Homo sapiens: one gene and its partner. The protein of the gene in region 1 interacts with the protein of each later gene in a biochemical or structural test. Each region holds a gene or a part of one and is shown on either strand. Other genes may lie near its edges. The genes, in order: GPBP1L1 and MFHAS1.

The links.
Region 2: the proteins of GPBP1L1 (region 1) and MFHAS1 form a complex in vitro, tested with the Homo sapiens proteins (one large-scale study listed by BioGRID and IntAct).

What each region holds. Positions count from the first base shown.
Region 1 is NC_000001.11:45,684,121-45,688,033, reverse strand, and holds the start of GPBP1L1 (vasculin-like protein 1), read left to right. Parts: upstream 1-1,500; 5' UTR 1,501-1,622; intron 1,623-2,413; 5' UTR 2,414-2,458; intron 2,459-3,913. UniProt on the Homo sapiens protein: Possible transcription factor.
Region 2 is NC_000008.11:8,785,631-8,789,443, forward strand, and holds part of MFHAS1 (malignant fibrous histiocytoma-amplified sequence 1), read right to left. Parts: intron 426-3,813; coding exon 392-425; 3' UTR 1-391. UniProt on the Homo sapiens protein: Probable GTP-binding protein. Functions in innate immunity and more specifically the inflammatory response as a regulator of the Toll-like receptor TLR2 and TLR4 signaling pathways.

The DNA of each region.
Region 1 (3,913 bases):
GAAGTTCTATTCCAGGGCTCCCAGGCAGCAGAATCTGCCCACAGAGTTCGGGTAAGTAGAGTGCAAGTACTGAAACAATCTCAGAATGATGGTGGTGAAGGAAGGTAAGAGACGGGATTTTAGGCCCAGTGTGACCTGAATTGCTTGCCATCTGTGGGACTTATGTTTTACTTTGCAAAACAGGGTTTATAAGGCCTATGGGGACACATCTCACTGCATTAGGGCCCTTTACTATCATTTAGAGGGGGAAAAAAGCCCAGTTCTTACATCCATTTTCTTTGCTGGGACCTATAAACTTCATTAAGGGTTAAAGAGCACAAGAGCAGGATTTTCACTTCCATGAAAGGTGTGGTGATAAGGGCCCTAGGCTTGGGGGTGGTTCGGAAAGTCAGATCATTTCTCCTACTGCCCTCGGCTTTATTTCTCGGCTATGTGACCTTGGGCAAGTCCCTTCTCTTATCTAGACTTGTTTCACAGGAAATGGCACCAGGCAATTTTAGTGCCCTTCCGTGTCTATGGATAAAACTGAAGACATGTAGTAGGAGATCTCAGGGGCCCACGCCGGCCAGTCCCTCCAATCCTCCGGATTCTAGGTAGTCTAGCTTCCTGGTTGCCAGCCATTACACGGTTTAGCTTTCCGTGCCGGATGGAGCCACAGCGAAGTCTTCCTTAATAGTAAGCGCTTTTAGTCGAGCTAGGCCTTCAGTTTTATTGCCTTCTCTGTCATGGCAGCGCCGCCCCTTCCAGTAGTGCGATACCCAATGAGACTTCAGGTAGGAGAAACGGCACTGTCGCAAGCGCAGGCTCTCGCCGGAATCCCGCCCTTCGCTTGGGCGGGGGAGTGACGCCTGCGCTCCAGGGGAACTACTACTCCCAGCGGGTAGCGCGGCCGACGCAGCCGCGCAGCCTCCGGGGCCAGGCCGTGTGGCCCGCTGGGGACTGGAGTCTCAACGACGCGCACACGAGAAGTAAGGAGCGGAAGGTGGGAAAGGGCCGGAAAACACACGTTCCTCCGAAACCGGTTTGCAAGTCCTTGTAGAGGTAGTTTCGGGACGCGCACTGGCCAAGGGGCGGGCTGTGGGAGGGTGAAGAAAAAAGGGATACACACATGCATACCCACCCACTCATTCATACGCGCCCAGGCCCTGGAAGTGGGCAAGGGGGTTAGAAGGGGCGTACTAAACTAGGCTTGTCCGTGCCTCAGGCGGCACGAGGAAAGGCAGAGGATTCAATTCTGTAGGGGGCAGAGGTGACCATGCGCCGCCTCAAGCGGCGAAGAAGGGAGCCGGGGGCGGGGCAGGGCATAACCGCCGTTCTGGAGGCCGAACGTTGGCAGCGTAGGGAACTGGCGTCCGGGAGGGTCGCCGGAGCAGTCCCTTGCGCATGCGCTTCTTCAGGTGGGCGTGTGTAAGGCGGGGTCGGACGGGGGATGGGAGGGCCGTGCTGCTGGTCGCTCCTCCTCCTCCACCCGCTCTGCCCCTCCTGGACCTTGTGGGCCGGGCAGCCATTTTGGGAAGAGCTTTGTTATGGTTGTGGACTAGCCGCCTCTGCCGGGTCGACAAGCTGGGGACGCGTCCTCAGACGCAGCGTCTAGTCCCTGGCCATAGCTCCGCCGCTGCCCGGTGAGTGGGAGTTTGGGAAACGGGGCAGTAGGAGATCCTGGAGTCGTTCTGGCGCGGGGCTCCGCCCGGTGCCTAACCAACGGGCTGTTAAAACTAGTTGAAAGAAGCTCTCACACAGGTGGTTGGGTATAGGTCCGACCCGAGAGGGGCGAGCGGAGCCCACGGGTCAAGTGGTTCGGATGCGGCACCCCCGCCTCCCCCGTGCATGGAGCTTTGCACGCGAGCGTCGCCGGGGCTCCGCGAAAGCGCTCCTACTTTAACTTCGGTCGTCGGGTCGGAACGCTCACCTGCGGCTCTTTGGCTCCTCTCCAGGCGATCCGGCTTGGTGCTCGTTGAGTGACTTGGCTTACGGGTTTTTTTCTTTCCTTCTTGAAATGAGAGCTAAGGGCTTTTGTTTTCCTTCAAAGGAAAACCTAAGGAGGAAAAAGTGTAAGTCAAATGTTGGATATCTGAGGGGAAAAAAGTTTTAACCCCCAGCTTTCCGGTTCTCTGTGGTAGCGAGGTGTTTTCGCTTAGATTGAGTCTATCCGATATCTACCAACCTCCTTTCCTTGGAGGGGCAGGGAAAGCTGGTCGATCCTGAAATGTTTTAAGTGTTATTTTTTTTCTGTTGTTTTAAATCTAGTTCTCCCCAACCCGTGAAATTCGAAAGACAGTCTGAATCCAAAATGGCTGTAGCTTGGGGAAGTGCCCTGCCCTTCGATTACTTAAATACATTAACGTTTAAAGATTTTAGTCCTTTCCCCTGTGGGGACATTAACTGAATCTTTTGATATTTTGGTTTTTTGCAGTTGGTGTCTCACCTTTAACTCTCCTTATGCTGGGTGAAAACAAAGGTGAGGCTCACAAAGTTGACTATTCCAAAAGTTTACATAAGAATGGGTGCGGTGCGGTGGTGTGTGTGTTTAATAGTTGCTTATAGTTTTGAAATTGTGCTGTGGTGTCAATTTTATCTGCCAACTTCGTGCTCTGAAGTTGGCTTGTCATATTTGTTGAAATATTTTTAACATTGACATTTATTGCTTACCAGAAAAATACAGTTAATAATAGTGGTTCATGTTTTAGTTTAGTAGTAAGTCGTGTTCTTGTGTAAATCTTATCCAAAAGTAAAGTGATTGGTAGTCACTCCTCATTAGACTTATATTTGTAATTTAGTAGACTGCTGATCTTTTCTAAGGTCTTTTTTATCCAATATTTGAAAGGAAATTAGGGTGCTATTAAGTTTGAGATATTTACTAGAATAGTGTAAGACATTTTAACAAGTGAAAACATACTTTAGGTATGGAGTACCTGATTGTCGTGCCCTTTTGAACAAGAGACTGTCTTTTGTTTGCTTTTTTTTTTTAATCGATAGATCCAGAAGTTTAAACAAAAAGTCATAGATTGGAAACCAAAACCAATAAATTTCAATATTTGGAAAGGTGCTGAAGCCTGTATCTATTTAAAAGATAAAAGAGTGAAATGCTAATTGTGAATGAGAACTTTGAAATTAATAGTAAAATAAACTCATCTTTCCTAGGGAGTCAGTTTTCAATGTACCTTTTGACGTTTTTTCAAATACAAAAGTTGGTTTTTGTTAATACCCCTAGGATTTTTTGTTGTTGTTGTTAAATTATTTTGGTGGTTTTACAGGAAAAATATTTAAAGTTTTTAATAGAAATTACAAGCTAGTTGCTTTGTGTTTTGTCACTGTTAACTACTAAACTGGAGTGAGATATTGATTTTTTGGGGGGGTACTCAGTGGTTTGTACATGTTAATATAAACATTCAGTTGATTCTGGATGGTGTCTTTATCAGAGCTCTTGATTTGTGGTGTGGGGGGAACTCTTGGGGAAACCTTTATTTTGAGCGAATTCAATTTACTAGATTGCTCATCAGTGGCTGTTAAAATGCTTAGCTGAGGAGGACACATTCAACCATTTAAATTTAGAATGATAAGAAATCTGGTGCACATTTCTGCTTGTAATTCATTTTTAATTTTGAGTTAAAGATAAGACACAATCGTGAATCATACTTCAGAAGATTGCATATCTTTATTTTATGGCTATAACTCTGATGTGCCAGGGACTGACTGCTGTTTAAAGTGCTTTGTATTTGTTACTTACTTTTTTTTCCTTCTTTTCTTTTCTTTTTCTTTTTTTTTTTTTTTTTTTGAGACGGAGTTTCGCTCTTGTTGCCCAGGCTGGAGTGCGGTGGCTTGATTTCTGTTCACTGCAACCTCCGCCTCCTGGGTTCAAGCGATTCACCTGTCTCAGCCTCCCGAGTAGCTGGTATTACAGGGGCTCACCACT
Region 2 (3,813 bases), on another chromosome or scaffold:
TTCACATTTAACAGAACTGAAATCTGAGTGCTCTAAATACTGCCACCTGTACTGTAACTATGGCTTATATGTGCACGGAAAACAAAATCCCTGAGAAGCCATTCGACTTTTTTTTTTTTTTTTTCTTTTCTTCAAGTAGCGCGCTCCTTGGAGGATCACAGTTCTGAGGTTCAGGTTGTAAAACATTTGCTCCATGTTCTCGTCCATGCTTCCCCCCACCACCCCCTCCCCACCTCTTCCCCAGTCGTCCAAAAAGCACCCTGCAAGCACGCGTTGTCACTCAAGTTCACAGAACACGCTGGGGTGAGTGCAGAGGGTCTGCCAGGTGCAAAAGATGGTCCAGGTGTTCAGATGCTCTCTTTTCTCCATGGAAATTCCACAGCCACAAACGTCACTGGTTTCTGTGCTTTTCACCAACATTCTTCCTGTATGGGTGGACAACAAGAAAGCACAGAGATGACAAAAACGTACTGGACAATGCTACCCTCAATAAGAAAAGGAAGTGATGATAGAAATCTATTTTCTGCACATATTTTCATTTCTACTTCCAGGACTCATTATAAACATGTAAATGTCAGGCAACTTATGTCCCCACAAAGGAAAGAGTCATTTTAGCAGTCTATTTGCCAAACATTTCTGTTGGTGTGTTAAGCTCAGTTCAGCTATAAGAGGGAACTGTACTAACTGGCTGTCATCACTTATTCCACTGTAATTTTATAGCTTAACTAGACCTCTAACTAACAACCCAAAACTCTAAACACGGAACTGTTTCCTTTCAATAAACACACACGGTCACACGCAGACACACACCAAATAATCCTCTAGAAGAAGGAATATATACTAAAAAGTGAGATGTCTGTCTGCCTAAAATGCATGATTTTACTTAAAATGTTATAAGTTAAGTTGTCCACGCAAATCTGGAGTCTGATCAATATAGAATGAATAAACTACTGCAGCCTCAGCAAATAAAGCGGGATTCAGTTCCGATAAAATGGTTAGAGGAAAAAATATCAAGTGTTTTTCTCATTTTTGCTTCCCTACAATGACATGTGATGGGATGTTTTTGAAAGTGGTTTTTTTTTTTTAGCAACTTTTAATAAAATATACAAAGACATTGAAAGGAAAGGAAAAAGGAGTTACGATTCGTTTCCTCCAATCCCCCATCTCTCATTAGGAGAGACGCTGATTTCATGGACACTGATAATTCAGCATCTGCCTAAACACTTCTCCAGTCCATACAAGATTCAGTCATGGGCTCATTCAAGCATGATAATAACGACATCACCAAAACAAAGCAAAGCAAAGCAAAACAAAACAAAACAAAACAAAAAAACCAAAAACCTCTCATTTACTAACTACATGCCAGGAATTAGGTTGTTCACTCTAGTGCATTATTTATCTTCAACTCCTAATAATCCCACCATGTAAGCTCCATCTTACTCAGTATTATTATTATTTTTTTTTTTTTGAGACAGAGTCTCGCTCTGTTGCCCAGGCTGGAGTGCAGTGGCGCAATCTCGGCTCACTGCAAGCTCCGCCTCCTGGGTTCATGCCATTCTCCTGCCTCAGCCTCCCGAGTAGCTAGGACTACATGTGCCCGCCACCACACGCGGCTAATTTTTTGCATTTTTAGTAGAGATGGGGTTTCACCATGTTAGCCAGGATGATCTTGATCTCCTGACCTCATGATCCGCCCACCTTGGCCTCCCAAAGTACTGGGATTACAGGTGTGAGCCACTGCGCCCGGCCTCAGCATCTTACTAGGAAGGGAACTAAGGTTCCAAAAGATGAAATAACTTCCCCAAGGGTGCATACTAGCGAGTGACAGAGCCAGGCCTTTCACTAGGGTGATCTGACTCCAAAGCTCAAAGAGAAGTTGGATATTTGGAGCCCTAGGAAAGAGTTTCACATTTCTAAGGCACTCTGCCACGAGAATTTTTTGAATGCCTATTAATATAGTAAACTCCCAGAAGAGAGGGTTTTGAAAACTGCCTCAAATTCAACTAATAATATAATCAATCTAACTGTAAGGAGGACGCCAGTGTAAAAACACACGTCTCAACCTAGCAGCTAACTTTGGTGGTGTGAGTTTTGGGTTCACGTGGGAGATGTGTTACATAAACATTTTCCCACTGAATCTGACAGACCTTCAGAAATGCAGACAGTCTGCTCCCCGGGCTACACGTAAGACTGAGAAACACAAGAATACCTAATCAAGGACACCTAGACGGAAAATCCCACTGTTCAACCAGCTTGAAAATTGTTTCACATCTATATGCCTTTTTCCACATTTGGGATCTTAGAGAAAACAACCATCAAAATCACCAACCTTCTCTGTTTCTCCCCACCTCTCTAGCTCCATAAACTTGTCCTCCTTCTTCAAGATCCATCTCAAGTACGACTTCCTGGAACTTTTCCTGATTCTTCCTGGTAGAGTTCTTTCTTCCCTGTGCTTACAAGACTCTGTTCATACACCTATCATGGCAGGTACCATGTTTCAATTATAATTAGACTCTGATAAGTTTGCCTGGTTATGGCTTTGATTCCTATCTTCTCCAAAGAGGCTATTAGGTTCTGGAGGGCAGGATTTGATTTAGTTCTTTATGTATCCTCAACACCCGGCCCAATGCCTACTAGAGGATAATTACTCAACAAAGATCTGTTGAATGAATGATGGGTCAGATGTGATGAAAAAGCCACAGGTAAAAAGTAGCCAAGATACTATGAGATCATTACCAAAAGAGGTATATAAAAAGTACTGAGGAGAGCCAGGTGCGGCAGCTCATGCCTGTAATCCCACTGCTTTGGAAGGCTGAGGCAGGCAGATCACCTGAGGTCAGGAGTTTGAGACCAGCCTGGCCAACATGGCAAAACCCTGTCTCTACTAAAAATGCAAAAATTAGCCAGGCGTGGTGGTGCATGCCTGTAGTCCCAGCTACTCGGGGGGCTGAGGCAGGATAATTGCTTGAACCCAGGAGGCGGAGGGTGCAGTGAACCAAGATTGTGCCAATACACTCCAGCCTGGGTGACAGACCAAGACTCTGTCTCAAACAAAGAAACAAAAAGTATTGAGGAGACATGAAGAACAGAGTGACTGGTTACAGTTAGGATGGTTACGGGAGGCTCCCCAGAGGAGCTGACATATGACCTTGGCCTCAGCGACCAATGGGCCTTAACTGGGTAGGAGAGAAGGGCAGCAGCCAGCCAGTGGACTGAGAGGCAGCCACGGCCCACCACGGCTGACCTCCCATGGTAAGGGAGTATCTGTGTGTTGGCAGAGTGGCTGGGTCTGATTGTGCAGGGCCTTGTGAGCCACGGCCAGGAGTTTGAACTTGAGCCTGTGATCACCAGGAAGCCATCCAAGGCTTTTCAACAGGGAGAGATGTGATGAGGTCTGATGTTAAAAGACAATTATTGTCGGTTTGAAGGACAAAAAGATAAGAGAGCAGGCAGCCAGCTGAGACTCAGTCACAGGAACCTTGGCAGAGACGGGGGAAGTGGTGGCTGGGGGGGTTGGGCCCTAGAGGGAAGCCCGAGGCTGAAGCTGAAGATGTGGGTCAAATTCATTCATGTCACGACACAGATGAGATGGGATAAAAGGTGTTGGAGAATTACTACATATAGGGAAGAAAGCAGAGGAAGGCAATGAGGCTTACGGACTCCTAGCTTGGAGCCGATGGTACAAAGCTACGCTGTTACCCAAGACAGGTCACAGACTGAGGAAGAACTTTGCGGGAGGAAGGCAATAAATTCAGCTGTACACCTGTGAAGCCTACAGACATCCAGGGATGATGCCACGTGAGACATTGGAAA